2 separate regions of the Homo sapiens genome follow, and region 2 is linked to region 1. Evidence: fine-mapped expression QTL. Tissue or cell type: lung. Region 1 holds a variant in brackets; the other region holds the start of a gene. All regions are shown on one strand. Distances are between the middles of the regions.

Evidence for each region. PIP is the estimated chance that this variant, and not a neighbour inherited with it, causes the effect.
Region 2: it holds the start of FAAH2, and the variant in region 1 is fine-mapped to the expression of FAAH2 in lung (TOPMed, PIP 0.92).

The regions. Positions count from the first base shown.
Region 1 is chrX:57,686,548-57,689,223 of GRCh38, forward strand. No RefSeq gene overlaps it. Among named protein-coding and RNA genes, the nearest start is that of NLRP2B, 7.6 kb to the left of the region's middle. The variant C/T (reference allele first, on the strand shown) is at 1,081.
Region 2 is chrX:57,285,097-57,287,772 of GRCh38, forward strand. It overlaps FAAH2 (fatty acid amide hydrolase 2), which reads left to right and starts at 1,610. Exons shown (of 11, transcript NM_174912.4): 1 at 1,610-1,921. The coding sequence starts at 1,730.

The DNA of each region.
Region 1 (2,676 bases):
GGAAGATCTACCAAGCAAATGGAAAACAAAAAAAAAGCAGGTGTTTCAATCCTAGTCTCTGATAAAACAGACTTTGAACCAACAAAGATCAAAAGAGACAAAGAAGGCCATTACATAACGGTAAAGGGATCAATTCAACAAGAAGAGCTAAATATCCTAAATAGATAAGCACCCAATACAGAAGCACCCAGATTCATAAAGCAAGTCCTTAGTGACCTACAAAGAGACTTAGACTCCCACACAATAATAATGGGAGAATTTAACACACCACTGTCAACATTAGACAGATCAACGAGACAGAAAGTTAAGAAGGATACCCAGGAATTGAACTCAGCTCTGCACCAAGCAGACCTAATAGACATCTACAGAACTCTCCACCTCAATTCAACAGAATATACATTCTTTTCAGCACCACATCACACCTACCCCAAAACTGACCACACAGTTAGAAGTAAAGCACTCCTCAACAAATGCAAAAGAACAGAAATTATAACAAACTGCCTCTCAGACCACAGTGCAATCAAACTAGAACTCAGGATTAAGAAACTCACTCAAAACTGCTCAACTACATGGAAACTGAACAACCTGTTCCTGAATGACTACTGGGTAAATAACGAAATGAAGGCAGAAATAAAGATGTTCTTTGAAACCAAGGAGAACAAAGACACAACATACCAGCATCTCTGGGACACATTCAAAGCAGTGTGTAGAGGGAAATTTATAGCAATAAATGCCCACAAGAGAAAGCAGGAAAGATCTAAAATTGACACCCTAACATCACAATTAAAAGAACTAGAAAAGCAAGAGCAAACACATTCAAAAGCTAGCAGAAGGCAAGAAATAACTAAGATCAGAGTGCAACGGAAGGAAATAGAGACACAAAAAAACCCTTCAAAAAATCAATGAATCCAGGAGCTGGTTTTTTGAAAAGATCAACAAAATTGATAGATTGCTAGCAAGACTAATAAAGAAGAAAAGAGAGAAGAATCAAATAGATGCAATAAAAAACGATAAAGGGGATATCACTACCAATCCCACAGAAATACAAACTAACATCAGAGAATGCTATAAACATCTCTA[C/T]GCAAATAAACTAGAAAACCTAGAAGAAAGGGATAAATTCCTGGACACATACATCCTCCCAAGACTAAACCAGGAAGAAGTTGAATCTCTGAATAGACCAATAACAGGCTCTGAAATTGAGGCAATAATCAATAGCTTAGCAAACAAGAAAAGTCCAGGACCAGATGGATTCACAGCCGAATTCTACCAGAGGTACAAAGAGGAGCTGTTACCATTCCTTCTGAGACTATTCCGACCAATAGAAAAAGTGGGAATCCTCCCTAACTCATTTTATGAGGCCTGCATCATCCTAATACCAAAGCATGGCAGAGACACAACAAAAAAAGAGAATTTAGACCGATAACCTTGATGAACATCAATGAAAAAATCCTCAATAAAATACTGGTGAACCAAATCCAGCAGCAAATCAAAAAGCTTATCCAACATGATCAAGTGGGCTTCATCCCTGGGATGCAAGCCTGGTTCAACATATGAAAATCAATAAATGTAATCCAACATATAAACAGAACCAAAGACAAAAACCACATGATTTTCTCAATAGATGCAGAAAAGGTCTTTGCAAAATTCAACAACCCTTCATGCTAAAAACTCTCAAGAAATTAGGTATTGATGGGACATATCTCAAAATAATAAGAGCTATCTATGACAAACCCACAGCCAATATCATACTGAATGGGCAAAAACTGGAAGCATTCCCTTTGAAAACGGGCACAAGACAGGGATACCCTCTCTCACCACTCCTATTCCACATAGTGTTGGAAGTTCTGGCCAGGGCAATCAGGCAGGAGAAGGAAATAAAGGGTATTCTATTAGGAAAAGAGGAAGTCAAATTGTCCCTGTTCGCAAATGACATGATTGTATATCTAGAAAACCCCATCATCTCAGCCCAAAATCTCCTCAACCTGATAAGCAACTTCAGCAAAGTCTCAGGATACAAAGTCAATATACAAAAATCACAAGCATTCTTATACACCAATAACAGACAAAGAGAGAGCCAAATCATGACTGAACTCCCATTCACAATTGCTTCAAAGGGAATAAAATACTTAGGAATCCAACTTACAAGGGAAGTGAAGGACCTCTTCAAGGAGAACTACAAACCACTGCTCAATGAAATAAAAGAGGATACAAACAAACGGAAGAACATTTCATGCTCATGGGTAGGAAGAATCAATGTCGTGAAAATGGCCATATTGCCCAAGGCAATTTACAGATTCAATGCCATCCCCATCAAGCTACCAATGACTTTCTTCACAGAATTGGAAAAAACTACTTTCAAGTTCATATGGAACCAAAAAAGAGCCCACATCACCAAGTCAATCATAAGCCAAAAGAACAAAGCTGGAGGCATCACGCTACCTGACTTCAAACTATACTACAAGGCTACAGTAACCAAAACAGCATGGTACTGGTAGCAAAACAGACACACAGACCAATGGAACAGAACAGAGCCCTCAGAAATAATACCACACATCTACAGCTATCTGATCTTTGACAAACCTGACAAAAACAAGCAATGGGGAAAGGATTCCCTATTTAATAAATGGTGCTGGGAAAACTGGCTAGACATATGTAGAAAGCTGAAACTGGGTCCCT
Region 2 (2,676 bases), 400 kb before region 1:
GAGCCTAGATTATGACAACCTGCTTTATCAGCTTTCTTTACTGGATCTGCTAGATGTGCCTGTCATGATTAACCTGCTTTCTACCAGGTGCTTGAATTAGGCTAGAAGTGCTGTGATGACACTTTCAGTATCAACCTAAGTTCTGCAGGTGAAAAGACAGTGACCTGGATGACGTTGTCATTTCACCTACCCAAGACCTTAAATGCCAAGCTCGAATCCCTATCTTCAACGCTCATTATCTCATAATCACATACCTTCAGCCTACAAACCTGTATTGACTTCTCATCAAGCCCTATGTCAGGCTCTGGCAATACAAAGAGGAATTAGAATGACCCTGTTCTTCGAGGAGTTTATATCTAGATGGGGCATAGACACAAAAACCTAACACATAACAGAGGGTTGTAAGTGCTATGATTTTGTTAATCTGTGGAGTGCAGGGTTACAAAAGAGTGGCATCACACCCAGTTGTAAGTTCAGGGAAGACTTACTGGAGGAGGTGGTACTTGTCCTGAACTAGATGAAGAGGTTGGGAAAGCAGATGCAAAGATAAGGAGGGAAGAGAGAACTTTCGGATAGTTGTTTGTCAGGAGCTTAGCATGTGAGGGATAGAAGGGGTTAGGGATGAAGCATAGAGTTTTTCAGACACCAGTCATGAGAGTCGAATGCTGGACAAAGTAGATGGGTCTTGAATCTGTGGAAAATGGAGAATTATTGCGGAGTTATTGGCAGGGGTGTAATATTGTCAGATTTACATATTAGAAAGAACACTCTATAAATAAAGGCAGAGTGATCAGCTAGATTATTTGTAGAAGTTCATGTAAACCTCAGTGAGATCTGAGCCAGACTGAGTTGAGAAGGAAGGGCTGGATTCTGTCATGAGAATAAGAGAAATGGAAGAATCTGAAGTGATTCTAGATTTTTGGCATGGCTGACTGGGTGGATGAAAATTCCATTTGTAGACCTGTAGGGGCAGCAGTCTGGGGGACAAAAGGATGAGTTTTGGACTTGTTGAGTTTGAACGATCTGGAAGACATTCACATGGATATGTCAAAAAAGGCATTTCAAGTGTCCAGTTTAGGAGACAGATGGGCTGGAGATTTGATGTTCATCAGTACTACCTGTTAGTGATCTTATAAGGATTAAATAATATGCATATGGAAAATATATATATACTTGCCATTTAGTTGTTTGTTGAGCATACTGAATATTTGCATACAAAGGTATACTTACAACACTTTTTTCACAAGCACAGCTGAAATAAACTATAACAACTACCACTTATACTATTTACCATAAATTGTGCTAAATGTTTTTACTTATTATCTAGTGTTTATGGTAACCCTTTGATATAGGAGTAGTTATTCCCATTTTTTTTCTTATGAGTAAACTGACTAGGAGATATAGTGTAGGTTGGCCAGGGCTACACAGTAGCAGAACTGGGGAATTCCAAGGCCAGTGTTCTTTCTTATGACGCATTTTCTGTCTTGGGTTACAACAGCACTAACGACAGGTAGCATTGCACACAGGCAGCTGCTGGGAAGTCTCCGCCCCCATCTCTGGCTAGGAGCCCTGCAGGTGATGATAAACAAGCTCCTGTGGAATTGTGGGTAGACACTGGACTTGTAAACGAAAAGCTTCATAAGTCCCTCTTTGCTTAGTACTTTTCTCGTCCTTTCCCCAGGGTGCACGTAACCCTCAAGCACTAGGACCGTGCGGAATCCAGGCTGCGATGGCACCTTCATTTACCGCCCGCATTCAGTTGTTCCTCTTGCGGGCGCTAGGCTTTCTCATAGGCTTAGTAGGCCGAGCAGCTTTAGTCTTAGGGGGTCCAAAGTTTGCCTCAAAGACCCCTCGGCCGGTGACTGAACCATTGCTTCTGCTTTCGGGGATGCAGCTGGCCAAGCTGATCCGACAGAGAAAGGTGAGAATGCAATTCAGAAGAGGCTGGAGGGACAGGTCTTTTAGCAGGATCCAGGAAGCTTAGTGGTGGCGGTGGTTGTGGTTTCCTTTCCATTCTCTACTAGGGCGACTTAGGAGAGGCATTTATTGGGGATGAAGGGAGACTTCTGGGTGTTGTAGTACGTTTATTTTTACCAAGGACATTTACTGTGGGCATGGGTTGGACTATTTTGGTACCGTCATAGTCCTTCCTATCCATTTGTCCTATTTGTGCATAATTACTGTGTGTGGGGTAAAGCAGGTGTGAATTTCAAACTGATTCTCAGCTATGGAAAGTCAGTCTCTCTCTTTCTCTCTCCCTCTCCCTTTCTCTCTCTCTATTCTTCCGTCTCTCACAGGCCCCAGATCAACCTGCTGCTTACCATTCAACCAATTCTTTTTAAAATTGATTTAAAGTAAAAGTAGTACTTGGTCTAGGATAGTAAAAGCTGCGTCTACCATATATTTATTGCATAGTATATGTGAAATACTCTGCCTGGGTACTTAAACATATTCTATTTCACGGATGCAGTTATATAGGCAATATTCATATTTTATGCATAAGGAAACTGAAGTAAAATGATTTGCACAAAAATTGTTGAAAGTTCTAAATTAAAAAAATTAAGCAGCTCATTCGTTCTCTATAGAATTGTGCAGGCAGGACTATTCATCTCTGTCATATAAGTGATTGGTTACCTGGAGATCTTGAGCTACAGTCTAGTATTGTTTATTTATACT